3 separate regions of the Homo sapiens genome follow, and regions 1 and 3 are each linked to region 2. Evidence: fine-mapped expression QTL. A gene starts in region 2. Each other region holds a variant in brackets. All regions are shown on one strand. Distances are from middle to middle.

What was found. PIP is the estimated chance that this variant, and not a neighbour inherited with it, causes the effect.
Region 1: its variant is fine-mapped to the expression of ISCA1 in CD8 T cells (CEDAR, PIP 0.95).
Region 3: its variant is fine-mapped to the expression of ISCA1 in whole blood (TOPMed, PIP 0.99).

What each region holds. Positions count from the first base shown.
Region 1 is chr9:85,523,474-85,534,317 of GRCh38, reverse strand. LOC101927603 (a long non-coding RNA gene) reads left to right here. Exons shown (of 2, transcript XR_007061633.1): 2 at 1-251. Among named protein-coding and RNA genes, the nearest start is that of AGTPBP1, 210 kb to the left of the region's middle. The variant G/A (reference allele first, on the strand shown) is at 6,333.
Region 2 is chr9:86,278,582-86,289,305 of GRCh38, reverse strand. ISCA1 (iron-sulfur cluster assembly 1) reads left to right here and starts at 6,768. Exons shown (of 4, transcript NM_030940.4): 1 at 6,768-6,928. The coding sequence starts at 6,848. It overlaps LOC124902194 (a long non-coding RNA gene), which reads left to right and starts at 7,225. Exons shown (of 2, transcript XR_007061634.1): 1 at 7,225-7,337; 2 at 7,853-10,724. It overlaps TUT7 (terminal uridylyl transferase 7), which reads left to right. Exons shown (of 27, transcript NM_024617.4): 27 at 562-1,573. The coding sequence ends at 629. RefSeq lists enhancers at 6,368-6,647, 6,768-6,917 and a silencer at 7,088-7,387.
Region 3 is chr9:86,254,245-86,264,856 of GRCh38, reverse strand. It overlaps C9orf153 (chromosome 9 open reading frame 153), which reads left to right and starts at 5,200. Exons shown (of 4, transcript NM_001276366.4): 1 at 5,200-5,307. It overlaps ISCA1 (iron-sulfur cluster assembly 1), which reads left to right. Exons shown (of 4, transcript NM_030940.4): 4 at 1-311. It also overlaps the pseudogene RN7SKP264. The variant TAAAG/G (reference allele first, on the strand shown) is at 3,588.

The DNA.
Region 1 (10,844 bases), 760 kb after region 2:
GCTGAATCCTGAGTGGGGTCGTAGAAAGATCTGGTCCTGTGAGTAGGGGGGCGAGGAGGAAGGCAGGGACTTCAGCTGGGCTGTCTACAACCTGAGTCTAAAACACCTAAAGACAAGCACAACTTGCCCCCGCTAGGACGAATTTCTTGCTCCAGACCGCCTCACTGCATCTCTAGGGCCATGTGTATTCCTGCTATTTGGCCACATTCCTTGAGAAAAATTGCCTATTAAAAGAATTTCCTTATTCACCAGTTATTTAAACAAATGGTCTTTTTTTTCTGATCCCAAAGATTTTAGCTTATCTCCTGTTGTGTACATGAGTTTGTGTGTGTCTGTATCTGTGTGTGTATATGTGTGTGCACATATGTGTGTATGTGTGCATGTGTGAGTGTATGTGTGAATATTCGTATGTGTGACAGTGTATATGTGTTTGTGTGTGTGGTGTGTATATGCATGTGTGTGCACATATGTGTGAATGTATGTATGTCTGTACATGTGTGAATGTGTATGTGTGTATGACTGCGTGTGTGTGTATGTGTATGAGTATGTCTATGTGTATGAGTGTGTGGACGTGTAGTGTGTGTGAGATTGTATGTGTATGAGTATGTGCATGTGTGAGTGTATTTATGTGTGCATGTGTGTATGAGTGTGTACATGTGTGTGAGTGTGTGTATGAGTGTGTGTGTATATGTGTGTATGTGTGTGTGTGTGTGCTGATGAGGTTTGTTGAGTGGAGGCTAAGTGGATAGAGACTCAAATGTTCGCTCCTGGCTGAGGTGGAGAAGCCCTGCTTCTGTGTATTTGATATTGAGGTGGAGAAGCCCTGCTTCTGTGTATTTGATATTGGAAGTTCTTTACGAGACTTTGCCTTTCTCTTTGAAAGAAGTTTGAGTTTCACTGATTAGTGTGAGACACTATCCTTGCACAGCATAACACTTAGGTGGTGGAGCAGCAAACATTCTCTGCTCTTCTTACAGAATTCTGGTTTTATTCAGGGTGGCAATAAATCTTAGGAGAGATCATAATTGATCCAAACCAATCACTGCCTCCTATTCCCTTTTACCAAATACTTCCCCAGCCTTCCTTACAGATAGAAGTAACCAAGGGACCAAGTTCTGGCCAATGGGCCATACAGGGAAGGTTTCCACAGAGCTTCTGGGAAATATTTCTTCCTGATAAAAAGAAAAAGACTCACTAAAAGGGCACCTTTTCAGCACCTGGCAATGCTATTGCTTCCTTCCTTTGAAAGTGGCTGTGATGCCTGGAGTTGCAGCATCCATCTTGAGAACGAGAACCAACAGGAAGCAAGTTGAGAATGGTGGAACAGAAATAGCCTGAGTCCTTGTTGCCATTGTATTGTTACCAAACCAGCTCTGGACTTCCTATTCTGTACTTTATTGTTTAGGCTACTGTTAGTGGGGATTTCTGTTACTTGCAGCCTAATGCACCCTAATACTTAAATTGATTTACTTTTTCCTTAATTTTCACACTGTTCAAAGTAGCATTGGGAGACATCTTCCATGTGTCTTTTCTGCTCCTGCATATCATGTAAGCAGAGGCACTTGCAGCTTCTGTTCTGGACTATTTTCTCAAGCAAACAGCTTTGGGAATGTAAGAATAGTGTCTTCTTTTCAAACAGAGAGCAAATTTGTTTGCTGACCAGTATAATAAAAACCACATCAATCTCTGAGGAAAAGGTTATGCAGTCTTGATAAAGGATTGGAGTTTCCTAAGTTTGGGATTTGAGTAATCTTTCGGAGCTGGAAACAAGACTTGATGATTTGTGTATGGAGGCAGAAGAAATAAAGAGAAATCAATCTTTATGCTCAATTTTGGGGACTTGAAAGCACAACTTTCAACTGAGGTGGGACACGTTGTGTAGCAGGTAGTAGGAAGGTTAAAAATAAATTAAAAAAAGAGATGTAGGGGGGATGTGTGTTGCTGATCAGCAAAGGGAGACCTAGGAATACTAATCATTAGTTTTCTTCACCTCCCAGAGAAGATACTGGTTTCTTTTGGGCTGCTTCAAAGCCCACGTCCTTGGCCTTTGATATTTGGTAGGGGCCCAGCACCCTGTCAGAGGCTGGCATTGGGACACCGAGGGGAGGGGCTGCTGTCTTTTTCAGCAGCATGTACTGTGTGCCAATTCCACATCAGAAACTGCGCTCAGTGCTGCAGAGATGGCAGTGAATAAGACATGACCCCTGCCCTGGAGGGGAAATGAGTCTAATGGGAGAAATAAATAATTATGGTAGAATTAGACAAGTGCTGTCTTAGAGGCATGCATCTCTGGGCTCCGGAGGCTCAGAGCTGAGAGGGGACATCCAGCCCTGCCTTGAGGAGTTGGAGAAGACTTCACAGGAGGAGTGATGTTTACGCTGAACCTAGTTTTTGTGTGCATGTCTGAATGTGCACACATGTGCAAAGCAGTTTAGAGTTCCAAAGAACTTCCAAATATATCACTTTGTTCAATTGCTATACACTTCTCTAAGAGATGTAGTATCATCCCTATTTCGCAACTGAGGAAACTGAGCCTCTGTCAGATATAAGAGATGTGCATGCAGGTCATTCATGTATTTGCCTGAACCAAGGCTCAAGTCCATGCCGTTGGATTGCAAATTCAGTGCTTTTTGAATGGCAGAGATGCTACCATGTAGATACCCCTCAAATCAGAACAGAAGAGTGGATATCCGTGCTAAAATTGCTTGGGTCTTTATCTATGCAAAGAAGAAAATTAAACTAAAAAATAAGTTAGTAAATGGGAGGGAAAGGAGTTTGTGGTAGGCAGAGCTCTGGAGATGTCCCCTAGTACCAGAGGCAGGGAAGGGCAGGGGATAGAAAAAGATGAAGAGGCGTTGATTAATAAGCACAAATATACAGTTAGATAGAAGAAATAAGACCTGATGTTCGATAGATCAGTAGGGTGACTATAGTTAACACTAATATATAGTACATTTCAAAATAACTAGTAGAGAATAATTTGAATGTTCTTAGCATAAAGAAAAGATAAATATTTCAGGTGATGGTTACCCTAATTACCCTGATTTGATCTTTGCACATTATATGAATATGTCCCAAAATACATACATCTATTATATATCAATAAAAAGAAAAAAATTAAAGATGTCCCTCAGGATTGCTGTCCTGGGTGATTCCATCAAACACTAACCTGGGTACTGCTGTGAAGGGGTTTTACAGCCAGAATTAAGGTTACTAATCAGATGACCTTAGAATAAATTGCCCTGGGTTATCTGGGTGGGCCCAATGTACTCACAGGAACCCTTCAATGTGGAAGACTCAGCCAGAAAGATTTGCAGATGGAAGAGGAGTCCCCAAGCCACAGAAAGCGATTAGAAGCTGAGAATGACCCTGGCCAACAGCCAGCAAGGAAATGGGACTTCAGTCCTACGTGGAAGGGAATTCTGCCAACAACTTGAATGAACTTGGAAGTCAGTTCATCCCCAGAGCCCCCGGAAAGGGGTGCAGCGCTGCCACCTTGACTCTAGCCTTATGAGACCACACAGAGAACCAGCAGAGCCATGCTATGCCCAGACGTCTGACTTAAAGAAACTGTGAGATAGTACATTTATGGTGCTAAATTTGCTAAATCTGCTAAACTTATAGGCATTTTTAGGGCTCAAAAGAACACAAATACAGTGGAGAGGAACTGGACGATAAAGAAGAGAAGAGAAAACAACCAAATACCAGTCGCCATGCTATCGTGCAATGAGTTCTACACGTCACTTATGAAACTACGACGTGACTGCTTTCATGAGCAAAACTGACCACCTTTCATATTGCTTGAGTTAAATATTTGATGTTTGGCTTCAGCTTCAGGTGATACTTTTTATATATTTTTTTGCAAGTGTATGGAAAGTTTGTTTCAATTCCCCATTGAGTATGAGAATAGGAAAATGAGAACAATATACCTTCCCCATTTAAAAAAGTCAAATTATTGAGAATGGGTTGAATTTTAAGGCTTTCCATGTGGCTAATATTCAGTGTAGAGTGATAGTTTGGTTTCAGTTTTGGAGAAAAAGAGATAAAGTATAATAAAATGAGATTGTTAAGCAGCCCAGTGCTGTCCTTGATGACTGCCAGGTGGTCTGGGAAGTTGCCCGACCCAAGGGGGACCACATAGCTCAGCCAGTTTTGGTGCCCATATTTGCATGGAGCTATTCACAATATGTGGATGTTCTCACTTCATAGCACTCCCTGCCACATATTCTCCTTTTCCTACAGTTTTGAATCCACTACAAGGTGCCATTTTGTTGGCGTGATTTTGTCCATCTTCACTTTTGAATGTCAGAAAGGTGGAATTTTCAGGCTGTTTTTACTGATTGTGTTCTCACCTGCACCTTTAGTGGATATGGGATTACTGATGATCAAAATGCCCTGAGCCGATGGGTCCTAAAGGAAAGGTGAGGCAGGCAGGAATGCAAGGGTTTCCCTGGGCCCAGGGAGGGCATCCTGTGGAAGGCAGCTGGGATTGAGATGGTTCTCCAGTGTCCCACTTGAGTTACTGCCCAACGGATGGGCCAGTGCTCCTGCAAGGCCATGGGATGCATGCAGGTGACTCCAGCCGAGGGCACTAGAGAGACTGCAAAGAATTGTGCCATCCAAAGGGCTCTGCAGGGTCTTCTGAGACTCAGACACACAGCTCTTGAAACACCTGTCCCAGGAGGTGCCAACAGCTGTGCCAACCAATAGGGAGGTTTGCAGCTGGGCCAAATCTAGTCCCCAGCTCTTAGCCTGGGAAGCAGAGGCAACCAACAGGGAGAGGACTGTGTTGGGACCCAAGTGACTAAAGAAACAGTGGTTGGTTTTCCTCTCTTAGCCCCTCACCCTGACATATACTGAAGAGTGCTGCCCTGAAGAAGAAGGACTCAGAAATAGACCATGACCCTTTCCCCGTACACATTCAGGGCCTCTCTGAAGCAAGTATTAGAGGAAGGAAGAAGATGAGGCTTAAACAGAATTTGAGCTTAAATCTGCAAAATGTCATGAAGGGAAGGAAATGGGAGAGCTGACGAGGTAGGACTGAGGAAAATCACTGGAGAAAAAGAAAACTGTTTCATGCTCATATCCGTGTAGAGTTGAGAGCAGCGTGATTGGTAGGTCCAGGTGTTCAAAGGATTGCACTGGCTCCACATGGCCCTGGAGGTCCTGGGTGAAGTATGAGGTTGAAGTAAGGAAATGGCTGGAGGTGGAATAAGCTGACCGAGGAAGAGTGAGTTCCCCATCTATGCAAGACTGCAGGCAGAGATTGCAGAGATTGCAGCAGACAGATACTCCTTAAAGTCACTTCAAACCTGGGGCTCCTCTTCCTCTCCAGGGATCGTTGGGAGAAGTGGGGGCTGGAGGTGGCACAGGAGGAGACCGCAGGCTGGTGGTGGTCTGCAGCCATGCTGCCTCTTCATTGATGGCCCTGGGGCCTGCCTGCGCATGAAGATAGGGGTGGTGGTGGGGCTACACTCCCCTGGCTGGGGTGTCCACTTGCCCTTGCACTAGACTAAGGGTAGGTTCATCTGCTGGTCACCACTTCCTGCTGGTCATGGGCCTGATGACGCTTAGAGAAAGTTGAACTAGCTGGTACATTGGGTCTGACCAAGGATTCTGATGGGGAGTGCAGGAGTGACTGCCACCCACAGGGTATACACCTTGAACACTTAGATTCACTTTTGTTGGAGACCTTTAGGCCACTCTGCTGCTGCTCTGGTGGGAGGGCCAGTCATGACTCCTCCCTTTTTGTCCTGCCATCTCTCCTGTGGATACGGGGTAGCCATGGACATCCAGATATGGGAAGGGCTTGGGTGTGGAGCCCTTGCTGGGGGCCGCTGACAGGTGACTATGAGACTTAGTCAAGTGGCTTCATGCCCTGGTGACTGTTGAGCTGAAGATTTTGGGGGAGGGGTGGAGCAGCTGGTCTTGGCCAGAATGTTTCAGTCTAACCGAGAGGCTCTAATACTGTGAGTCTCGCAGACATAGGTCTGTTTCCTTTCCCTGCGCTCCCAAAATACGCTGCACAGCAAGTGTCCTCACTTCCTCTCCAGCAACCAGCTCTCCATCTAAAGTGCTATTATAAGGGGGAGCCCTTGTCAAGGCCCCAGGACAGAGGAGGCCTACTCACCTCACCTTTCCAGAGCCCAGAGAGGTCACCTGAGTGACAGAGTCCACAGACGGGATGTACTAAGTCCACCCAGATAGGAAAGCAGTTAGAAAATTTAAGATGGCAGTTTCTTACAATTCTGATAGGCATCTTCCTGATCTACCTGCCTAGGAGAGAGAGAATGGGGGCCTCGTGCTGAGTGTGAGATGGCTGGACCACATAA[G/A]AGCAGCGTGTGTGTGTGTTGTGTGTGTGTGTCTTCTCAGTGTAAGCCTAACAAGTGTACAGATCCTGCTGTGTGTCAGTCAGGCCCCTGGAACAGCTTGTCAGCATGGCTTATGTCACAAAGTGTTTCTTCAAAGTGGTAAACACACACACAATCCACATTGTGTTTCAGGAAGACAATGGTTCAAAGGGTCTGCCAGGCTATTTTTATCATGGAAGTCTGGAAGGAAAATGATGTCACATACCGAGAAAAGTGCCCAGCTATTCCAACAGACCACAGCTGAAAAATTCTTGTTTTTATTTGTTTCTCTCAGAATTGAGATCATTCAAAAAAGGTGAGTTTAAAACCCTTTGTTCCAGAAAGCTCTGTAGCTCACACTGTGCCTGGAGTGCCTTTCTTTCCTGTGTTTTGTCAAACAGACATGAAAGCTTCTGCAAACTAGGTGCCTGGATCAACCTGGGTGAACTTGTGGTAGGGGAGCTGAGGCCTTCTGACAGCAGATGGACTTGGCATTGGAGAGAGCAGATGGCTGGCCATGTTAAAGAGATAAAAAAGAAGAGTGATCATATTAGAGTTTTCCACCTCTGCTGTGGATCTTGGACAAATTTCTGAACCTCTCTGATTGTCATTCGTCTCATCTGTAAAGTAGGGTCATACCTACCTCAGAAGATTGTGGGTACTGATAAGATAACGACTGAAAACAGCTATTACAATACTGCACATATACTAAGTGTTAAACAAATATTATTAATTCCCTTCTCTCCTTTCCTTTGACTTTGTTTTTTTATGACCATATTTTATTTTTCCCTATTTTTTACTAGGGAAGAAATGTTACAAGGATTCCCCGAAACGAATTCTGCCCTACTGCTTTCAAGTAAGGAAAAGAACAAAGAAGAAAGAAAGTCACAGGAAGCAGAAAGAGTATAGATGTGATTTTTTTTTTCTGTTCCTTTTGGGAATGGGAGTTCTTTCTCTTCAGAAAATGGTGGTGCTACTTGCAGATGAGTGAGACCCTGATGTAGTCCATGCACTGGCAGGGGACACTGGGGATTGGGTTTTGCATTCGGGGTTGTAAATAGTCTCTTAGAGGCAGGTCCAACCTTCTTTGGCCAATATTCCCAGAATAACCCAGGCCTGCTTTTGGCATTTAGGTTTTCAGACAAAAGATATCTTTGTTTGTGCTGCTATAACAAAATACCACAGAATGGGTAATTTATAAACAATAGAAATTTATTTCTCATGGTTCTGGAGGCTGGGAAGTCCAAAATCAAGTTCAGCATGTTGGGTTTCTGGTGAGGGCTATGCTCTGCATCGAAGATGGCATCCCATCGCTGCATCCTCTGGAAGCAACAAACGCTGTGTCTTCACACAGCAGAAGGGACAGAAGGGCAAGAGAGGGCTCCCTCAAGCTGTTTTATAAGGGTGCTAATTCCATTCATGAGGGCAGAGCCCTCATAATTTAATATACCATTAAACTGGAGATTAAGTTTCAATTGGAATTTTGGAGTGGATGCCATCATTCAAACCACTGCAACCTAGGAAGCTCTAGGGAGTCCATTGGGCTCTTGGTGAGAATTGTATTCTTTAACATCTTATTTCATGTTTGCTCCTTTATCTGTGTTTCTTATTTGTTTATGATAAGGAGGCTGGAGACAGTTGATTATCATTTTAGGGGAAAAATGATGCTTTCCCAGGAAGTTCCCAGGACAGAAGAAAGGGAGGAGGCACTGAGTGGGAGAGAAGAGACACTGTTTCTAGAACATGGTGCAGGAAGCCACAGCTTCCTGTTCCAGTCAGAGGGAGCATTGGGTCAGCTTTGGGTTGGGGTAGGTGTGAAGGGGTGGATGGTAATTTCTCTATCATTATACAAAATCTGTAGATTGACCAGCTTGCTGCTGTCTTCTGCTCAGGATTCATGTAGCAACTACCACCCTGGGACCTCTTTTTTTTGAAAGAAAGAGTCTCAAAAATGGCCAATCCAGTAAGCAAGGTGCTTGGGGACAGTTATTTCACAGAAGGTGCTGTGTGGGCATGGGAGGAGTGTCCACCTCTTGCAAGAATGAGATTCTTGCCTACTGCAGTGTTAGTATTTAGACCTACTTGCTTCATCTGCTAGTCAGGATTTTGTCTGGGGTTATTGGTTTGGGGCAAGGGGACAAATAAGCTGGGGTGGACACTGGGAGACCTGGGCAAAGGGAGCTCAGAGGATGGGCATCTCACTTGGACTTGAGTGGCTAGGGAAGTCTTTCTTGGGGAAGTTATGTCTGAATTTCAGCCTCTGTAGCCAGAGAAGGGACTTCTGAACGGTAGGAACAGAATATGCAAAAGGCTAGAGAGTGACAGACACAAATATTGGATGAGCTACAGATGTTCAGTCTGGTTACTGCAGAATATGTAAGGGATAAACAAGAAGGCTAGAGACGGGGAGCAGGGTCTGGGCTGTGCTGGGGTTTTACTCAGATGTGGCTGTGCTTGCTGGATTGTAGATGCTCTTCCTGTCAGCACCTGCACACAGAGGCTCCTGCTAAGGATAGGGTGGAGAAACTAGAAGAACATGGCACCTGCTGGTGGTGCCTTGTCCATATCTTCTTGCTCTTACCTCCTCAATGCACACAGGCCAACTTTCAACACTGCCAGCACTTACATTGCTTCACCTGAAGGCTTTCTCTGTCTTCCAAACTGACTTTATTTGCTGCCAACACATCAGGCTGGAAATGCTAAAAAATTAGGAGCCACACTCAACCAATGACTCTCAGGATTTGATGAATAAAGACCCCAGCTCCCTTACCATGCTGGGTGGAGTGTGGGTTTGACACTGGCTTTCAGAGTTTCCTTTGTGAGATTAAACTCTATTTCTTCAAACTTGCACGTTCAACTATGCTCAGCACTCAAAGTTCAGGTTTCTGGTGCCCTTTTAATCACCAGGAGCCAAAACAACTTCCAAATTTGGTCCCTTAAAGATGATTATATTGGCAAGGAGATCGTTTGGTCGCTAAAGAACCACCAGTGCAGAAGCGATCGTGGTGCTATGATTTTAGGGACCCAAGACCCTTCTACCTTGTTACCTGGTGTGTTAGTCAGGAAAACCTAGGCTATGCTGCAGAAACAAACAATCCTAAACATCTAAGTGGCTGAAAACAACAAGGTTTTATTTCTCCCTTGTGCTAGCTGTCTATTGCAGATCAACAAAGAGGCATTGTCCTTTTCCGAGAGTCATGCTGAAGGAACTGCCACTATCTGTAATGTTTTTGGCAGCCACAGCAAACGCCTTACATCAGCAATAGAATGTTCAGCCTGGAAGTGATACATGCAACTCAGTGGCCAGAAACCTTCCTACAGGTGTTCCCACAGAGCAATGAGAACTGAATATGGCAAGCAGCACCAGTGACTGTCACACTCATTTACAGCAGGCTTCCATCTTGTGGGTCAGAGGACTGTTCTACCTCTGACTGGAACATCGGCATTTCAGCCAGCAGAAAAGGCAGAAGAGAGGTGGAGGCTGCACTCCTTCCCTTTGAGGTCCTGGTTCCAGACATTGCACACACCTACCTCAGTACATCTTCTATTGGTCCGAATGTGGTGCATGAGCAGCTGGGAATTAGAGTTCTCATGCAAACAGCCATATGGCCAGATGAAACTTGTGGGAAAAATTGGAGGATAGATTTTTGGATATCTTAAAGTCTCTGCCACACAGATGATGAGGAAGACACTCTGGCAGAAATTCTATTGTTTTGGGTTGATAGTGGAGTATCTGGGAAGGATGTGGTGAGGGCATCTTTTGGGGTAGTTGGCTTTCTAAGACAGCACTACCCATTCTATTCTGTTTCTGGCCTTAAAGTACAGACTTCCACAGGGGGAGACCTTCTTTATGGTGTATTTGATAAAATACTCAAAATACAGAGGCTCGGCAAATACTTGTCACAGATAATTTGAGAATTTCCCCAGGGTCTAGTTTTGAGTTGAGTGGCCACGGGAGGTTATGGCTGCTTTTATTTGTTATGAATGAATTTTGTATCTATACAGATAGCCACATATCCCTATCATATTTGAAATAGGGAGGGATCTTATGAAGTTTTGTGAAAAATTCTATATTCGATGAGTAGTCCCTAAAACACAGCCTGGAATTTCGACCTAAAGGAGGGCTTTTCCCCTTCTAATTATAATAATCTTTGTGTTTATCAGCAAAAAACTACTTTACACCTTTATCAACAATGATGAAGATTGTGGGGCTGGGGTAGGGGTGGGTGGGGTGTAGGTATCAGTCCAGAATCTGCCATTAACAGCGTGAATGACTATGGATAAGACCTTCCTGGGTCTCAGTTTCCTTATTTATGAAACAAAGTGTGGTAGATCGAAGATAGCCACAAATTCCCATTGACGAGTGGCATCTAATTCCACTCCTCCTGAAACTGGGCTAGCCTAAGTAACTTGCTTAACCCATACAATGTGGCTGGGACTTTTGCTGAGGCAAGCTCATAAGCAGCCCTCCAGCTTCAGTGTGGGCCTCTTGGT
Region 2 (10,724 bases):
TATTTGTTCAGACTCCAGAACAAAATTTAGTAACTATTCTGTGGTATTGGTTTTAATCAGTAATCCTCATTTGTGTCCTCCACCTGTAAATATAATAAATTTCCCTTTTTCCTTTTATATCAATAAGTTATTGCTACAATGATTACCATCCACAGCTTCGTATCTGCAGAGTAATGATCTAAGATATTTATTTCTGGCCAGATAATTCTTTGCAATCTATTATGTTTGGCTGCAAATGAAGATACTGAATTATACAAGGCAGAACCTTAAGTTCGTCTGGTGCTCTGTACCAACATGGAAATAGTGAATATGTAAATGTATTAAAATGAGATCACTCTAGGAACCTGTCTGCATTCAGAAAGAATTTTGACTAAGCTTATATTTAATTAATCATGTGCATATATACTTTTCAATATCAAGTCTTATTACTTGATTCAAAACAAGTGACCAATTCTAGTATGAAGTTTTTGTGACTACTTAATAAGAAGTAATTTTATGGCTTTTGTCATAAAGCGAGGCTTGTTTCATTTATATTGGGTTTTGTTTCTTCCCCTCCTCTAGGTAGCCTTTCCAGTAAATATATGACTCAGGGAAAAGCCTCAGCGAAGAGGACCCAGCAGGAATCATGAGGGAAGGAAAATGCAGCACTCTAAATGGCCACTCAGGCGTTCCTATTCACTCGGAAAATTAGGTTCATTTCACAGGACACAGCAGTGTAGATCAGGCTTCAACTTAACATTTAAGGGAAATGTCAGATTTTTTTTTAATTTAATGAAATTGTTAATGAGGAAAAATTTTTAATATAGTCTTATCTACCACACATCCCCATAGATTTAAGGATTTTAATAGAAAGACATGATGTATGTATTTAAGCCACGTTAAAAGAAAAAATATAACTATGGACCGGTATTCAGTGAATACAGTTTCATGGTTTTTAATTCTTTCAAAGCACATTAAAAATGGTGTGCTGATAAACCCCAAGTAAATTAACCCTTTTTCCGTATAAATCCATTTTTTGTTTTGAAGAGGGGAAATTATATTTATTGTTGTTTACTGAATCCTGGTGTGAAAGCATATCAGATATGTATGAACTGCTACTGCTGTACTTCCGATTTACGGACATCATTTTATTGCTATTTGTAGACGTGATAACATGAACATGAGTACCTATTTATGTGGGCCTTCAGTGGATGGGCAGTGCCACTCAGGTCTCTGGGGTTTCCCTCTCTAATTTTAAGTAAATTGACATATAACTACTATGCTTATAAAAATGAAGTAAGGAAAACAAGTAGTCCTGTTTGCCACTAAAAACATTTTCAAAGGAAAAATAAAATGAAAGTACTTTTTACTTTTTATGATACTCAGAAATTAGGATGAAGAACTTTTAAAATTGCTGAAGATCAAAGAGGTTATCTCTGCCAGTCACAAGTGTGGCTGGTGTCATTCTGGGTCTGACTGGAGCCCTCCTGGACTGTTTCTTTAATTTCAAAAGCCCTGCAGACATAGTACCTGGTCAGAACTATGCCTCGGTTTATTTATCATTTTGAAATAAAATCAGAATTTCAACCTGTAATTTTATCTACATTATTTTCTAGTGAAAGATTCCTAAATTTCCTGGGGAAAAAAAAAAAAGATCAAGGAGTGAGAACATTGGGAATGATAGTAAGAGGCGTTTAACAAAAAAGAAGAAAGGACAAATATACTCCCCTAAAATAGTGTACACAGACTTCCCTTTGACTTGTGCCCTTGCAATCATTGGTGTGTGTTAACATCCAGTGTGTTCCAGGCTCTGGGAACGTATAAATTTGTTATTATAAAAGGCACAGATGGGGGTGGGGGGGCGGGGAATTTGTAGGCAGGGAGGCTCAGGGGGTGCTTGCTGGACGAACATTCTGGATGTTTGAGGACTCAGAAGACGCACATCCCTGTGCCCTTCTTTTTTAAACAATTATTTGAAGACAGTCTAGCTAAAGACGAATCATATCAAAATTAAAGACTTCAGAATTTGGAGGCCATGGTAGAAAGAATTAGTGATCATTCCCTACTCATTTTGAACGCAAACTAATGAATGACGCAACCTGGGCTGATGCTGCTCTACGTGACCGTCCTCAGCTGCCCCCTTCTGGTTTCTTCTCTCTAACTCATGCATGAAAGTCGACTAGGCTTACAATGCTTGTCACACTTTTCTTTGAAAAGCCCATTGATGCTGTTCTGTTGTTTTCTAGCATTATAGCAGAAGACAAGTCTAAGACCAGGCTGATTTTTGTTCTCTTGTAGGTTTTGTTTTTCTGCCTGGGTGCTTCTGTTTTTTAATTTTATCCCTGTAATTCAGAAAGAAAATTACCTCAATATAGAAATACATCTATCCAGTGACTTTTCATGCTAGGAAAACTTCAAGTTTAATCTCTACATGACTGGCTTAATTTTTACTGTCATTCTGGTGCTTCCTGTTTCTAATATGGATTTTCTCATTGCACTTCTAATTTTCTGGAATTTGCCTCACTGACCTTCCTTTACCTCTCATTTCTTTAGTTTACTTATATTCTCTTCCTTTTCATAGGAGCCATATTTTCTTGTATCCCTTTAAGGATGTTAAAAGTTTCCTACATTTTAATCTGATCCTTAAGGTAGCTTCTGCCCAAAGTACTGGGTCTTTTGTTTGATTTTCAATACCTCACACTGGATCCATGGGACAATGAGCAGTATTTGCCAGCAGGCCTGGATAATGGATTGCCCTTGATTCTTTACCTGGATGTGGTCGCAGCCCCATCTTGCTGCCCCAGCTGGGATGCCAAAACGTCTGCTCTTTGCTAAGTCCATTGGCCTAGCTATCTTTCAAGTGCAGCCGGCTTATCTATCTTAAGCTGTACAAATGCCCCATTACCAAGGTTCTCCTTGCCACCTTCTCTCAGGAACAAAAATATGAAATCTCTTTTGTATAGCAGTGGTCCAGTGGCCCCAATCTATGATGTTTAAAACTCTTGCTTGGCTGGGTGCAGTGGCTCACCCCTGTAATCCCAGCACTTTGGGAGGCCGAGGCGGGCAGATCGCTTGAGGTCAGGAGTTCGAGACCAGCCTGGCCAACATGGCAAAACCCCGTCTCTACTAAAAATACAAAAATTAGCTGGGCTTGGTAATGGGCATCTGTAATCCCAGCTACTCAGAAGGCTGAGGCAGGAGAATCACTTGAACCCAGGAGACGGAGGTTGCAATGAGCCAAGATTGCACCACTGCACTCCAGCCTCGGCGACAGAGCAAGACTCCATCTCAAACAACAACAACAACAACAAAACTCTTGCTCAATGTGTGCAGGATCAGCAGTGTGCAAAAATGTTTTTAAATGTTCTTAGATAACTTCAGTGTATTTTTCTTCTTGAAATATGTTTGACAAATGGCTTCTACTTTTAAATCTTTCCTGAGTGGAAAAGATCCTGGATAAATACATCAATAGAGTTCAGTGTTACAAGCAAAAATATACACACACACGTTGAAAACAGAATTTATCAAACCCCTGTAAAACTGTAAAGCCCTCAGTAGTTTTTTCTTTGGAAGCAGGCATATTTGGACAGCAGCAGTCAAGAACTACATAGACTTTCCACTGAATGGAACTCTAGACTTAGACAAGGTCTGGCCCACCTCGTTTTCCAGCTGTGTGGCAGTCCCCTAATCTCAGGCAGTTCAGTTTCCATTCCTATAAAATGGAAACCATTCTTGGCTTTCCACACAGTTGTGATAATCAAGTGAGGTCTTACCAGGAAAACACTTCTTTAAATGTCTAGAACTATGAAACTAATGCCTGAAGTGCGGGGTGAAACAGTTCCCTATTGCAAGTTCTGTCACATATTAGTGGAAATCTAAAAGTGGTTACAGCTTGTAACTCTTTTGACACTTCCCATACCCACCTCATTTTGACACCACTGGACAGCTGCTGCTCTGAGATAAGCTCACATACTGCTTAAATAATCGTGAAAATTATTTATTCTAACATAACATTATTTCAGGGACTTGTGCCAGTTTCAAGTGATATTAGAAACTAACAAGTAGATTATGTGACTTAATGCTTATGTGCAAAACAACTAACCAAGTTAAAAACTGAATAGTGGGGTTTTCTTTTTTGTTTGTTTTTGTTAAATAGTGGGTATTAAATAGAGGAAAGAAGTCTGTTAAACATACACAGGATCCTGAATCAGAAAATTGAGGACTAGATGTTTTCAATAGTGTCTAATGCTCTCTACTAAAATCCTTGAGTTTCAGCATCTGTAAAACTGCCATGCCAGTGCTTCTGCCCTACTCAGTTCAAAGTTGTGAGGCTAGTATGAGATAATATAATATGCTCATGGAGTTTTCTGAATCTTGTAAAGTGCTGCACAACTGTGTAATGTGTCAATAACTGAAAAAAAAATGACAGCATCTTTTATTTTTATTAAATTTTAATTTTAGGGCTGTTTTAGGTTCACAGCAAAGTTAAGCAGAAAAACAGAACTGCATATATCCCTTGTTTCCACATGTGCCTCACTGTCACTCTGCACCACAGTGGTACACTTGTTACAATCTTAAACCTACATGGACACATCATTAGCTCTCAGTGCCCATAGTTTACCTTAGGGTTCACTCTTGGTGGTGTACATTGTGTGGGTTTTGACAAACGCATAATGATATCTATCCACCATTATAGTAGTTTCACAATACATGGCATCTTTAAATACTCATTAACAATTACCATTTGAGTGAGGCTGTGTGCCTTGCACCCCTCTAAGGGCTTCTCCTGTATTAACTCATTTAATCTTCACAATATCTGTAGGAGGGAGGATATGAGATCCCAAACCCCCAGGTAGTCAAAGATGAAGGCCAAGAAACAAACCCACCACACCACCACCTCTCTATGTCCCTCCCTCCCTCCCTTCCTCCCTCCCATCACTTTTTCAGTTTCTTTCTTTCGAGATGCAGTCTCGCTCTGTCACCCAGGCTGGGGTGCAGTGGCGCAATCTTGGCTCACTGCAACCTCCGCCTCCTGGGTAGCTGGGATTACAGGTGCCCGCAAACACGCCCGGCTAATTTTTGTATTTTTAGTAGAGACGGGGTTTCACCATGTTGGCCAGGCTGGTCTAGAACTCCTTATCTCAAGTAATCTGCCGGCCTCCGGCCTCCCAAAGTGCTGGGATTACACGTGTGAGCCACTGCGCCCGGCCCCCAGTTTCTTTTATTTTCTTTCTTTCTCTCTCTTTCTTTCTTCTTTCTATCTGTCTGTCTGTCTCTCTCTTCCTATCTTCCGTTCTTTCTTTTTTTTTTTGAGACAGAGTCTCACTCCGTTGCCCAGGCTGGGAGTGCAGTGGCACGATCTCAGCTCACTGCAACCTCCGCCTCCCAGGTTCAAGCGATTCTCCTGCCTCAGCCTCCTGAGTAGCTAGGATAACAGGTGTGCACCACCACACCCGGCTAATTTTTGTATTTTTAGCAGAGATGGGGTCTCACCATGTTGGCCAACCTGGTCTCGAACTCCTGACCTCAGGTGATCTCCCCGCCTCGGCCTCCCAAAGTGCTGGGATTACAGGCGTGAGCCACGCGCCCGGCCCCCAGTTTATGTGCAGATAAGGCTTAGGGGAAAAAAAAAAGCGTCCTCTTATTGTCAATGCGATTGCATTTCTGTAGCAGGAAGTCAGAACTACTTGATGGAATTTTGAACTATCCTTTCAGAAACTGCAGGAGATCGAAGATAAACTTGGCTTTAAAAAATGTTTCACTGATTAGTTCTTCCCACATTCAAACACTGCGAATCTGTCCTCCCCAGGACTGCTTCATAGACCCCTCCTGCCCTTTTTCCTTCACTTCTAGCACTTCAATGACAAATGCCACCTGTCTTGATGTCCTCCTCTCTTCATCTGCTAGCCCTGTCCTGCCAGTATCTCATTCTTCCCTGGCCCCTCTTTACCTGGCTTCCTGTGTATGCCTGGGTACCGCGCCTGTGCAGTGTCTGGTGCTCAGGAATACTGCATCAAAAGGCAGAATTAAGCCCCTGAGCAGCCAGGACAAGGTCTGACAACACGTTTTAAATCGAGTAATTGTTGCTCGCTATAAATGTGACTATTCACACTGCTGCCCAGTCACATTTTCAAGTAGGGTTGGTTCCCAGTTCAGCACCAGAATGAAAACTGCATTAGTCACCACCCTTCAGCATCCCCAGCAGTACAGCACGCTGGGGAGAAGGGTGGAGGGTGGCGATTATACAACTCTGCGGTAACGCCATGCTCTTAAGAACAGCCTAATTGGACCACAAAAGAAGAATGAAAATGGATGTAGATGTCTGGGCATCGGAACGATCACTCTGCATTTGAGAGCATAAGCTCCCAGTGCAGGGTTGACTTATGCGTCCTTAAGTGTCACCGCCTATGATGGTGTTTGTCACGGTGAGTATTAAAGCAGGGGGTGACGCTGCACCTTGCCCCGGGGGCAGGTGGTGAAGCTACGTGCATCCGGAGTCAGCAGGTCTGAGGTCATTCCTCGCCCCCTCCCGCCCGCTCCCCGACGTCACGCCGACTCCGTCCTCGGCGGTGAAGACATTCCTCCCGGGCCCTGCGCCCTGCAGCGTGGTAACCCCACTGCCGGAGACCGTGCGCAACCCAGCTGCTAGACCCCCGGCGTTGAGCGGCAAAACCCCGCCCCGAGCGGCTTGCCCCGCCCCCGGCTCGTCACTCATGCAACTCACCCAATGGTGGCGGCGGGGGGCGGGGCTAGGACTGAGGGCGCCGTGCGCCGAAGCTTGTGGCGTCAATGCGCCCGCCGTGTCCATGGAGAGAAGCTGAGGCGGCCGACCTTCGGCCCGAGGCACCGGGGCGCCGGGACGGCGAAGATGTCGGCTTCCTTAGTCCGGGCAACTGTCCGGGCTGTGAGCAAGAGGAAGCTGCAGCCCACCCGGGCAGCCCTCACCCTGGTGAGTGCTCGCGGCGCGCGGCGGGGCCCGTGACATTGCTCGTGTCCGCCCCGTGCAAGGGGAGGTCACGGCGGCCGGGAGTGGGGCCGCAGGGACGCGGACACGTCAGACCTCGGCGTCGCTCCGACCCGCCGCACAGCCTCGCCGCCTCCTTCGCCTCCGGCCCCTCTTTGCAACGATAAACAAGTCCCGGGCGGGGCTGCTCTCTTGGCCCCGGAAACTACGTTTCCCGTCAGGCCGCGCGGCAACCGCGTGCGGGCCGGAGGGGATCCCGGGGGTGGGCGTCCCCGGGGGCCGATCGCCTCCACACTCCTGCCGGCCTGCGCTGTTCGGCCGTTCCGGTTAAGCAGAGGCTGAACGTGCCCGGTGGCGGGGGTTCCCGGTGGTGGCCCGGAGTCCTAGCCTGGAGGTGCGTGGGGTGGGGAGGGACCAGGCTGTCCGAAGGACCGCTGTGTCGGGGCGACAGCGTTCGCAGAGGGCGAGCACAGCGACAACAAAGCCCCCGGCTCCTGCCGAGGTCACGGCCGCGGCGCGCAAAGCGTTACTTGCCGGTGTCCTGGGTGATTGAGGCCTTTGAAACTCCCTCTGTGCCTCTAGCAAGCCTAGGCTCTTAGGACAAAAGATGATTTCCCAGAGTGAGTTTACAGCCTTTTCTGGGTGAAAGGTCAAACACTCAGAGGGCACCAGAGTGCAACCATTGATTACTTAGAGAATTCACTGAGCTCAGTGTTCCGGCCGCACCGTTCAGTTTTTTAGTGGAAGGAAAATCCACATAACATAAAATTAGTCCTTTTAAAGGGTACAATTCAGTGCCATTTAAGACATTCACAGTGTCGTGCAACCATCACCTCTATCTAGTTCCAAAATACTTTCACCCCAAAAGAAAAATTTATGATCACGTTCCTACATACACTCCCCTTTTAGTGAAGGAGACGACTTTATGCAACCATTCGCTTAGAGACTGGGAAAAAAAACGATTTAAATTGACTCATCGATTCTGTTGCATCTAATGCCAAAAGGGCCTATTACCAGAAAATAAGTTTGTAGCAAAGTAGAAGAAAATTGTGATCAGGTGAGAGAATTTATTTTTATAATCAATTTTTTAGGCCTTTGATATTACCCTGATTATATATGGTACTACTAGTGTACTGATTATGTATCATTCTATATTACCTCTTTTCTGTAGGAGCAAGCTTATTTTCATACACCGTGGGATGTAGAATTAAACAAGGTTTTAAGAACTAGAGGGCACAACTCATTCTTTGTGTCTCTTTCAATCTCAGTAAGAATTATTCAGAATTCTTCCACTGGTAATGGTAGATCCAGGAAGAGCCAGAAGGTTCAGGAACAGTTTTTGCCTTTTCTTTTTTGCTTTTTAGCAACCCTATTAACTGGGTTTTTTGTTTTTTGTTTTTTGTTTGTTTGTTTGTTTTTGTTTGTTTTGTTTTTGGAGACAGGGTCTCACTCTATCTCCCAGGCTGTAGTTCAGTGGTGCAATCATGGCACACTGCAGCGTCAACCTCCTGGGCCCAAGCGATCCTCCCACCTCAGGCTCCCAAGTCGCTGGGACCACCGGTGTGCACCGTCATGCATGCACCTAGGGTCTCCCTGGGTTGCCCAGGCTGGTCTCGAACTCCTGGGCTCAAGCAGTCCACTGCCTCAGGCTCCCAGTGTGCAGGGATTACAGGTGTGAGCCACCATGCCTGGTCCCTGATGTCTTTCTCCATCACCATTTGACATGTTACCTCTTCCTTCAGAATTTCTTTTTTTTTTTTTTTTTTTTGAGACAGGGTTTCGCTGGGTTGCCCAGGCTGGAGTGCAGTGGCGTGATCTCAGCTCACTGCAGCCTCTGCCTACTGAGTTCAAGCAACTCTCTGCCTCAGCCTCCTGAGTAGCTGGGATTACAGACGCCCACCACCATGCCCAGCTTATTTATTTATTTATTTTTGTATTTTTAGTAGAGATGGGGTTTCACCATCTTCACCAGGCTGGTCTTGGACTCCTGACCTCGTGATCCACTCGTCTCAGCCTCCCAAAGTGCTGGGATCACAGGCATGAGCCACCGTGCCTTGCCCTTCCTTCAGAATTTCTATGTCAGTCCCTTTCTCTCCATTCCTAGTCATTCAGCAGACATTTATCAAGATCTGCTGTGTTTCAAGACAAATGAATGAGTTATACAGTTCCCAGCCTACGGGGCACAGTCGCAGGCCAAGCCTTTGCCACCTCTTACTAGGAGTAATAGCACTGCACATTCTCAGGCTTGGTCTCTCTCCACACTTGCTCCCCTCTGCTTCAGTACATGTTATCATAGCAGTTCTCAAGGTATCCATGTTGCCTGACTCAGCTGTTTTGATTAACTTGCAGGAGTCTACTGTCTGTACTCTGTTGTCCTACTTAAGTATGGCTGACTTTAGAAGCTTCTCAGAAGCTGTACCAGAGAGAAGGCACATCAATGCTGTTTTCCACACAGCCTGTGTTGGTGGGCTTGCAGTCATTTTAGTTCCAGCATTCGTGCCCTAGTCAGGACACTATGGCATGTATTGCTCTTTGTGCTTAGTTTATCATCAGCATGTATCGTCAAGTGCAAAAGTAGTGATGCCGTCAAAGGCCTAATGAATGGAGACAGATAAGAGAGCAAACAAAAGTATACGTAATTCAGTAAAACTGATTGGAAGAGGTAAATGTTACTTGGGTCTAATAAGTAGAGACAGATAAGAGCAAACACAAGTATACCTAATTCAGTAAAACTGATTGGAAGGGATAAATGTTACCTGGATATATAAATTTTGATGTTAGGAATTTGACATGTTGCAACATTTGAAAAGTGCTATATGTGTGGAGTCTACCAGATGTCAACAAAAGGCTAGGAAAAGTAACTGATAATATAACACAGTTCAATGCTGTCATTATCAGATTATCTACATCTTCCCTATTTCCCTACATATCTAGAAATTGACAAGTGGAATTGAACTTGCAGGAGCCAGATGTGATTAAAGAATCTGAAGAGTAAATAGTGCCCTGCTTGCAGACAGATTTATTTCCATCATTGTACAAGTCAGAGCAACTCTAATTTGTAGGACTGGGGTGGATCACAGCTGTGCATTAAAACTCAACCAAGTTCTATGAGAGAATGATGGTGCACAGCCACTATCATTCTTGATGAATTCATTGTGTACGGAAGGTGCCTTAGGGCTTAACTTTCTATTGGAGTCCAGTTGAGAAGCTAGGAAATGCTTAATGCTCAGTAAGGAACTGTGTGTTAGTTCATTGGACTAGAACCAGAAGTCCTTTTGAACAGTGACCAAGCACTAAGATTTCTATACGAAGGCAGTTTAGGAAATACTACACAAGAAGCACTGGAAGTAGCCTAGCAGTCTAACAGTGAAAGAACGGTTAAGTACGTGAGAGTAGATCCTGTTGGTGAAGGATGTAGTCATTGTAAATTATGGTTTTTTTTAAGTTTCAGCGTTATAAATCTTCATTCTTTGACTTATGCTGTGCAAATTATTTAATCTTTAATACCTAAATCACAATGGCAGGAATAAAAAGATGTTACGTTTAAACCATTAAACACTTAGAAGGTGCTCAGTAAATGGTGAATATATGTTTATTACCATGTATCAAATGAAAAAATAATTTGTTAAATTGTTTCAATGGAGGCTGCAAAATTATGTATATATGCCATGATTACAAACCTTTTTCTTTTTAGAGACAGGATCTTCCTCTGTCACCCAGGCTCATATGCAGTGGCATGATCATGGCTTACTGCAGCTTCAAACTCCTGGGCTCAAGCAAT
Region 3 (10,612 bases), 24 kb after region 2:
AAGTGTTCCTTTTGTCACTTAGTTACTGATTTTCCTGGGTTTGACATAAGTATTCTATGAGATGATATATATGCTTTTTTTGAAAGCTGATTCTCATGAATTCAAGTAGCTGAGTTCCTTTATGTTTCGTTTATTCACTAAAGTAGCTGACACAAAACACACCAAAACCTAGAGCGGTAGTTTTATGTAAATGCTCATGAGTTTGTATCAATAATATAATTGTTGATCCACTTATAATTCGTGCAACACTGTATGTATGTAGAGATTGAGTTGTCAATTAAAAAAAATGTGGCCTCTTTGTGATCATAAAATTGCCTTTTATTATTGAGGGGAGAGGGTTTGGGACAGCAGCTGCTAAAGCCAATAAAAAAATGACTGTCTTTTTTGCCTAGGCTGCCTGTCACCAGGCGTCCTCCCTACCTGACACTGTTTCGTCCAGAGTCCTAGCTGCTGATTCTCCACACAGCCCTGGAGAGACCATCTCAGGTGTCTCTCATCTCCCTGGCTTTGCTAGCCTCTTTTTCCTCCTTGTTCCCCATGAGGGTCATCCATCCCCCAAGCAGGTTCCTCATGTCCTTAGGACGAGAGCATTATCACTACCTGGAGTGCTTTTCCCTCTGTCATCTGAGCTTTTATGTGAACCTCCTCCAAGAAGGTTCTCAGCTGTTCACTCAGGCACAGTAGTGAGCACTGACTCTCCACTAGCCCTGAGCTTTCACAGGTCATCAAAGACAGTCCCAACCTCAGAGAGCTTCAAGTCGGCAAATGAGACACCAGCGAAGAGCATCGATCACCATGGTAAGTGTTGTGAGCAGCTGGTGGTGATGGCATGCTCACTGCATGCCAGGAAGTGTTCTAATAAACATCATCTCAGCAATCGAGAATGCAGGTCTGACTACTGTCTTTTTCATAGATAAACCAAAACACAGCTTAAATAAAATAGCTAAGGTGGCCAAGTCAGAATCGTACCCTGTGTCTATGGCTCCAGATGCTGTGCTCCCAGCTGTTAGGCCATACTGCGTGTCCTGATAGAACCAACGGAGTGCGCTTCTAAAAAGGTAGCCTACAGGTTATGACCCCTGCGCCTAGTTGAAAGAGATTTGGGGAAGAGGGAAGACAGTGAACAGTACTAAAGAGGGTTGAAAAAACACAGAGGGCGTGTTCTCACTCATAGGTGGGAATTGAACAATGAGAACACTTGGACACAGGGCAGGGAACATCACACACCAGGGCCTGTCGTGGGGGAGGGATAGCATTAGGAGATATACCTAATGTAAATGACGAGTTAATGGGTGCAGCACACCAACACGGCACATGTATACATAAGTAACAAACCTGCACGTTGTGCACATGTACCCTAGAACTTAAAGTATAATAAAAAGTAATAATAAAAACACAGTGAAGCTAAGCACTCCGGAGAATGAGGCCCGGAGAGGAGCAGTAAGGCTGGAGGGCAAGGTAGATGCCTGGGGCGTTTGGGCTTTCTGCAAGTTCTGTAGGCCTTGGGGCCACTGAAAGTGTTTAGGGGCACTCATTAGAAAATTGCATTTGGAAGTGTTTCCATGGCCTGGACTAGGCTGGCTGATGAGGACAGGAAGAAGCTACTGCAAAGCCCGCTATAATAGGACCTGAGCAGGGACCCGTGAGAGAAAGGCTTAGGAGGCAGAAAGGATGGTACTCTATCCGTAGCCCAACCTCATCAGCCAGTGTTCTGTGACTCATTTCTATTTGTACAGGCAGTACTTGTACTGTTCATTGGTTTTGGTTCTTGTCTCTTGTACAATATTGAAAGGATCTTGGAGACAGGAACGCAATTGCTTCTTCAGTGTTCGTTTAGCATCGGGCAGGTCAGAATTATTTTTGCAAAATGGCTCCATCCTACGGCCATGTCACACCATGTCATGCAAGCCTTAGCCCTCACCAGGAAGGTTCTGTCTGTTGCACCACATTCATCCACATTCTACTCACAAACACTGGTCATTGTGTTAGGCGATTTGGTAGTGCCCCTGGGTGATGTGTAGGCCAGCAGATCTGTCGCTTAGCAGCAGACTTCAGGCTTTTCATGATCAGTTATAAGCCCACTCTTCCACATCAGGATGCTAAATTGAATGAATCAGGCCATGAGGACAGAGGCCTGCTGTGCTTCATTGTTGCAGGGCGCCTCCCAGCCCTCTGTCACCGGACCCACCAGAATGATTTTTTTTTTCTCAAACAGGAAAGGGTTGGGAACAATCCCTACAAGATCAGATGTCCCTAAGATTTCCAGTATTTCCTAGGTTTCACTCAGCAGGAAATACCTCAAAAAAAAAATGGCCTTTCTTGTCATGTTTTGATACCTGAGAAATCAGGAAATGGAAAAGCCTGTGCTAAGCTGAGCTGTAAGCAACATCAGTGTCTCATTTGAGCCTTAGAGCAGACGTGGCATGGGCCAGACACAGCATCGACCCAGAATAAACCCAAATACAGCTCACCTGAGCTCAGTGCAGGCTGGGAGGCTGGCCTGGAAAGGTGTAGGTTTGGGGTGAGATATGCCTGGATTTGAATCATGGTTCCTGTCATTTTGTAGCCATGTAACCTTCTGTAAAACAGTCTCAGAATTTGGGGGGATGTGATGAGCTAACTACACATAAATGGCATCCTGCTAAGGGTAGACGTTTCATACGTTGTAATTCTTGTCCCTTTTAGCCATTTTCTTGTGCAAAAAGGGATAATATGTTAATGGATTATCAATCAAAGCAAGAGCTTAGGGAAAGAGTTTCAACACATTTAGGGAGTTATTGTCCCATATTCAAATCTGGGGGAAATTTGCTGTATTTCCTTCAAATAAAAGACCACAGTAACTTCTTTGAAAAGAACCATAAATTTCAAATATAAACATTCGGAGAAATTTCATTCTCTTAGTAGCTGATTAACTATAGACAAACCTGCCTTAATTGAGGAGCTGTTTTGAAAGCTCATTCCCCAGTAGGAACTCAATCTCCTGGTCCCAGGTGGGTCTCATCAGACAAGAGATGGAGGAGAGAGGGAGGTGCACCCTAGCCTCAGCCTCTATTGAAATACAGAGCCATGTGGTGGTTACATCACTGTGGACTCCCATCCTCCCTTGCTGCTGTGCAGTGTTCAGGGAAGGCTTCATTTCACACCAACCTTTAGCGGGGCAAGGGCTCTGTACCAGCGGTACTCAGCTTAAAACTAGCCTACTTTGAGGGCCTTGATGGGTTACTGCTTTTACTTCCACTAGCTAGTGATTCCGAAACTTTTCATGATGAAGTGCCCATTTATTGGGCCAGGTGTGTTGGCTCAAGCCTGTAATCCCAGCACTTTGGGAGGCAAAAGTGGGCAGATCACCTGATCCCAGGAGTTCAAGACCAGCCTGGGCAACGTGGTAAAACGCCGTCTCTACAAAAAATACAAAAATTAGCTGGTCATGGTGGTACATGCCTGTAGTCCCCGTTGCTCAGGAGACCAAGGTGAGAGGATCACTTTAGCCCAGGAGGTAGAGGTTGCAGTGAGCCAAGATCGTACTACTGCACTCCAGCCTGGATGACAGAGCAAGACCCTGTCTCAAAAAAAAAAAGAATAAAAAA[TAAAG/G]TACTCATTTTTTGTTCTCCATGGATTCTATGTCTTGAAGCAGTCCTCAAACTTTAAGGTGCAAATAAGTCACCTGGGGGTCTTGTTAAAAAGCAGATTCTTGGCCGGGCGCAGTAGGTAGCTCACGCCTGTAATCCAGCACTTTGGGAGGCTGAGGCGAGTGGATCACTTGAGGTCAGGAGTTCGAGACCAGCCTGGCCAACATGGTGAAACCCCATCTCTACTAAAAATACACAAAAATTAGCCAGACATAGTGGTGGGCGCCTCTAGTCCCAGCTACTCAGGAGGCTGAGGCAGGAGAATCACTTGAACCTGGGAGGTGGGGAGGTTGCAGTGACATGAGATGGCACCACTGCATTCCAGCCTGGGTGACAGAGCAAAACTGTCTCAAAAAAAAAAAAAAAGCAGATTCTGTAACAAAGGTCCAGGGCAGAGCCTGAGATTCTGCATTAGTAGCAAAGGCCCAAGTGAAGCCAGTGCTGTTGCTCTGCAGAACACCTTTGAATGGCAGGCTTTTGAAATATTTTCTCATTGGAAGAATCTTCTGTATTTATTAAATTCTGCTTAAAATTATTAACTTTCTTGTATATCCATGTTCATAACAGCATTATTCACAATAGCCAAAAGGTAGGAACAACCCAGGTGTCCATTGACAGGGGACAGGGGGTGAGAAATTTATTTCATGGACACAGATTCAGGTGGAAAAGATGAAAAAGCTCTGGAGATGGAAGGCAGTGCAGGTGGCACAACAATGTGAATGTACTGAATGCCACAGAACTGTGTACCTAAAACGGCTTAACACGGTAAGCTTCATGTTATGGATATGTTGCCACGGTGTTCACAAGTTATTAACTCAATCAGACTATTTAAATGCCCAGTAGATTGCATTCTGGGGAAATGGCTGTTTCAGGAAAATTTTCAGTGATTGCCACAGGGACCTCCCATGGGTGGGGAATGGAGTCTGGAGCACGGCTGCATGGCTCATGGAGAGAATTTGCACAGCCAGGTAGCCCCTGGTCCACTTCTACCCATATCTGGCCAGGTGCAAAGAGCATAGCTGTACCTTCTATTATCTCTCTCAATTTCTTATTTGCACTTTGCCCATGTCTATAGAAGGAAAAACTTGACTGATTAAAAATTACATTCACGGCACCTGTAGTCCCAGCTACTCAAGAGGCTGAGGCAGGAGAATGGCGTGAACCCGGGAGGCGGAGCTTGCAGTGAGCTGAGATCGTGCCACTGCACTCCAGCCTGGGCGACAGAGTGAGACTCCATCTCAAAAAAAAAAAAAAATTATACTCACGCCAGCCTGGGCAACATGGCGAAACCCCATCTCTAGAGAAAAATACATAAATTAGCCAGGCGTGGTGGCGTGCGCCCGGGGTCCCAGCCACAAGCTGAGGCAGAAAAAAAAGTAGCTACTCAGCTACTCAATGTTCACTCTTTAAAAATGCTTTTCCATCATCCTCCACCGTCTCCCACCCCCCACCAAGCAGCAAGATAATTCCCCATCGCTTAGCATCATATAGCTGCTTATGTGACCTTGAGAATGTCCACATGTCACAATGGACAGTCACTTAACACTAAGCAATGACACATGCTAGGAGTGGGGCTGGGCCTTGGGGCTGCTGGATGAATGAGACCCAGCCTCTGCCCTGGGAGTGCAGAGACTCAAGACAGATATGACCACGTGAAGAGACAACTGTAAAACAAGTGGTAAGTGCATCTACAGCCATAGCCACGGGGCACTGTGAGACCACAGAGCAGTGAAAACTAAGCCAGTCTAGGCTTGGCAAGGAGAGATGGAGTGAGGTGGGCAGTGGCTAAGGTGGGAAGACCAGAGCTGGGAGGTGAGATGGGATTTGGGTTTATCTTTACCAATAAGGATGAGGAGCCTGTTTCATCTTCCTCCAGGCAGGTCACAGAAGCTGGAACCAGTTGATCGGGCCGAGCCTGCAGACTCCCTCATCCTTTCCGGCCTTCAACACTGATAGCTCTGCTCTCTCTCCCCAACCTCAGTGCCTTCATCCTCCCCTGTGTTCCCATGGATGCTTGGTCCTGACTTTGCACCTCTCCCTCACACCCAGTGTCCTTTGTTTTTCCTCTGCCACTTGGGAGGCTGATGGGAGGATCACCTGAGCCTGGGAGGTTGAGGCTGCAGTGACCTGTGTTCACGCCACTGCACTCCAGCTGGGGTGACAGAATGAGAGCCTATCTCAAAGAAAAAAAAAAAACACTGCTCTGTATGATACTATCAAAGTGGATATATGTAATTGCACATTGTGAAATCTCATAGAATGCACAACACCAAGAATGGACCGTAATGTAAACTGTGAAGTATGGGCTTTAGTTAGTAACCATGCATTGATACCGGCTCATCAAGTATAACAAACGTACCACACAAACATAAGTAGTAAAAAAAAAAGGGGAAAGCTGTGTGTATGGTGCAGAGAAGGGGGGTTGTGGGAACATTGTACTTTCTAACCAATTCTAAAATTGCTCTAAAATTTAAGTATATTAATATTTTTAAAAAAAGTTTCGTTAAATTAGCAATATAATAGTTGCTTACCCAAGAAAATTCAGGTTTTCAAATATTGCGTTTTAAAAGCAATTATTTCCGGATGTGAGGGTGATCTGGCTGCAACATCTGTCACCCCACTGATGGCCAGGGTTAATTTGTCTGATCTGGCTGGCTAGGTGGATGTCTCCTTCCTCCCTCATCCGTCCACATGCGTCCTTCCAGACGCTGCGGACAACCTTCCCCAACAGAGGAGGGCCGTTCTTTGGGCAAGGGTATATGAGTAGCTGCACTCCCCTGCTAGAACCTCCAAACAAGCTCTCTAAAAGTAATTACTTCAAAGGAAGGATTAAGAGTTTCATCCTCTATGACAAAATTAATTTTTCCTTTTTTTTTTTTTTTTTTTGAGACAAAGTCTCACTCTGTCGCCCAGGCTGGAGTGCAATGGCACGATCTCGGCTCACTGCAACCTCCGCCTCCTGGGTTCAAGTGATTCTCCTGCCTCAGCCTCCCGAGTAGCTGGGACTACCGGCGCCCACCACCATGCCCAGCTAATTTTTGTATTGTTAGTAGAGACAGGGTTTCACCGTGTTAGCCAGGATGGTCTTGATCTCCTGACCCCGTGATCTGCTCCCCTTGGTCTCCCAAAGTGCTGGGATTATGGGCGTGAGCCACCGCACCCGTCCTACAAAAATTTTAGTAATAAAGGTTGTCCTTAATAGTTGAATGTGCACAGCTATAAAACCCACACAAGAAAGCAATCTGGCCTCCGCATCTAATATCTGCTCAAGATTGATGAGCTCTCTCCCCCTCCACGTTAGCCCCAGATGGGTTGTTTGAGCTGCCCACACCGCTCATTCCCTGAAGCCATCGTGACAGGACACTGTCACCTTTGTCATCCATTGTGTTGGTATATAAATCCACTCAACTGATCTGTTCCTGGCCAAGACCACAGACTTTTCCCCTCTCTGAGGAGCTAAGTCTGATTGTCATATTTTCAGTTCTGGTTGTTATATCAGCAGTAGTAAATTGCATTCCCTGTCAATCAATCGTGTTGTCAATTCACCCTCTGACAACTAAAGCAGAAGGCCTAAAATTACTGAGTGCCTACTCTGTGCCAGCTGCCATGTCAGACAAGCGGCTCCCCTGGGAAGACAGCCAGACTCAAGGGTAAGGGATCAAGGAAATCAGCCAGGAAAGTCCATTAGGCATTTTGGGGAAAGACCAGGCAGGAGCTAATGAAGTCTAGATGAAAAGTGACAGCTGAGAGAACTGAAAAAGGGGCAGATGTCTTGTTTGGCTTGATGGAGCCTCCAACTGATTACAAGTGAAAGCCAGGAGGGAGGAGCTTAAAAGGCCTGCTGTTCTGCAGGGGAATCTTCAGGTTCCTATGGGCTCCCATCTCCTCCCCAAGGAGTCTTCTCACTTAGACTAGCATTCCCAAAGCATGGAACCCAGTAATCGCTGCAGTGAGCCACAGGTGCTTTGGGGTTTCAGAAGAAAAGGCAATCTGTTGGCCTAAAGGAAGAAGCCAAGGCAAAATTAATATAAGTAGAGAGCTTATTTGAGCCAAGTTTGAGGACTGCAACCCTGGGGACATTGATTCAAGTTGCCCAGAATATATGCTCCAATCGGCAATTATAAGTGGGTTTTTAAAGGGAAAAAAGAAGAGGTAGTTCTAAAGTTGTTTACCAAGTATTTACATTGGTTCATTAAAATACCGTAAGCTTCTTTTTTTCTTCTTCTTCTTGTTGAGACAAGGTTTCCCCCTGTGTTGCCCAGGCTGGTCTTGAACTCCTGTACTCAAGTGATCTCTCACCTCAGCCTCCCGTGTAGCTGGGATTACAGGTGCATGCCACAGTGACTCACTCAAAATAGTATAAGCTATTGACTGGCTATGCGCTGTTCTTTGTATCACAAATTCCAGAAAAATGAAGATATGGGTGAGGGTCACATTGTGCAACTCATAGCATTTTAGGTAATTTATCAGCTGGTCTGGAAACTATAGGCAATAGAAGAAAAATACAAAATGCCTTTAAACAATTAACCCTGGGCATAGGGTTAATGAGACTCTCCTGTCTCTCTGATAAATTTTGCATTCCTCAGATTCTTCCGACTGCTCTGAGCTACTTTCCTTTCCCAAATGAAACAGTTGTAGTCACACTTCATAAATTGAAAATAACATAGTAATGATTTCCCAGAAATCTCATTTTGTTCCTAATAGCTCCTGCGTATTTAAATGTTGAGCATTTTCCACGAAGATGACATTAATCAAATGTTCTTAAATAACATTCAATTAGCAGGATACAGTTCATTCTGGTTAATATATTTTTCACAACATTTGCTTATTTCTGTTTAGTAAGTCTGCAATCTTTATCATTGCTATTGGGTTATATTAGATTGAATCAGTGGCTCGAAGGTATTCATTGAAACCTAAAATAATGATGGAGACAGTAGTGGATATTCCACACATCAGAATCATCTGTGAACGCACATAGTGCTCACGATTCCAGAATGATGTAGGATGGCAACCAGGACTCACTGAGTCAAGCAAATCTGCAGGTATGATGATCTTACATAAGCAGCTGAAGAGTGAAAGTAAGAAGTGAGAAGACAGTAGTGGATATTTCACGCATCAGAATCATCTGTGAATGCACATTGTGCTCATGATTCCAGAATGCTGTAGAATCACAACCAGGACTCACTGCGTCAAGCAAAGCTGCAGGTGTGATGATCTTACAGAGGCAGCTGATAAGTGAAAGTGGGTAAGAAGTGCCACAATGAACATCTGAAAAACGTGTTAGATTAAATCAAAGTTCTCCTTCCCCAAGTCCCCTGAGCAAAATATAAGACCTGGCCAGATGAGCTTATTATGGCTCAGAAAACAACACCCCTGTAGGAGCCAAGGGAAAAATGTCCTTTTTGCCCTCTGAAGGTTTGCTGAAAAAAATAACTCGCAAAAGGCAGATTCACTGGAGAAAAGGCATACGAATTTATTTATGTGCACATAGGAAAGAACCACAGAATGATTGCTCCAAACGCCCAGTGGGTTACAGAAGCTTACATACCATCTTGAGGTTACGAAGAGAATGGGAGCTCAGAGAATGGCCCAAAACAAGTTATGGTGGTAAATCAGGTTATGGTGCATGACAGGTTATGGCAGGGAGAGAAGAGGAGGCCTGGCTAGCAAAGGTGGTCTTGCTATGTAGATGAAACCTCACAGGTAGCAGCCTTCAGAAAGAATACATGGTAAATGTTTCCCACCTTCAAAGGTGTCAAACTCTCAGTTAATCTTTCCTACATCAAACAAGGGAAGGCTCAGAAGAAGCCAGGCTGCATCAAGGCAGATTGTGTACGATGCAAATCTCCCCACGAAAGACAACTTTGCAGGGCTACTTCTGTTTGCTGGCTCTCTGAACAGACACCTCAAAATGTATCAAAGAAGGATATTTTGGGGGTAAAATATTTTTATTTCTGTCAGTCCTACTTTGAAACTTTAAAAAACTTTCACATATTAAAAGCCATGTTGATGGCTTTGGAGAGATTTGGGTTAGAAGTTGTTAGATAGAGATAGGCAAAGGAGTGGGAAAAATTTGGGACAAGCAAAAAAGAGCAAATTTAAATATATTGTCCATATATTCTTGAATTAGTCTCATTTCTTTTTCTCTCTCTTTTTTTTTTTTCTGAGACAGCGTCTCACTGTCTTTCAGGCTGGAGTGCAGTGGTGTGATCTTGGCTCACTGCAACCTCCACCTCCTGGGTTCAAGCCATTCTCCCACCTAAGCCTCCTCAGTAGCTGGGACTACAGGCATGCATCACCACACCCAGCTAATTTTTGTATTTTTGGAAGAGACGGGGTTTCACCATGTTTGCCAGGCTGGCTGGCTGGTCTCAAACTCCTGGCCTCAGATGATCCACCCATGTTGGCCTTCCACAGTGCTGGGATTACAGGTGTGAGCCACTGTGCCCGGCCAAGTCTCTTAGTTCTGAAAATACATCAGTTCAGTTAAACCATTTTCTCCCATTCCAGAAGATGGCATTGCAGATGGGCTAGGCCTCTCTATACAATGCAGGTAAACAGATCTTTAATAAGAGGCATTTCTATGGAAACAGAAGAAAAACAGAGTAATGTCTGAAGTGGTCTATCTATAAACTAGCTGTTCTAGAGTTTCTGAAGTATCATCAGATTGCAGTAGCAATCTGACAGATTTTTCTGGTTTATAGTTCAAATCAGGTGTTCAAGCAAACTTTCTGAGTAGTTTACACAGCAGCAGACATGAAGACTGTTTTTATATAAGTTGCTGTGGTGATTTTTCTCAAAGTTTATACCAGATTGTTTAGCATCAGTTTGCAGAGCTCTAATAAAGAGCAGAGTTTTAATTTCTAATAATTCCAAGTCAGCAAAATGAGATGCAAATCTGAAAATATTACTTTGGAGACTTGTTGCCAGCAAAGAATTCAGCATTCAGTCCAAACCGGAGGCAAATAATAAAAACGCAAAAA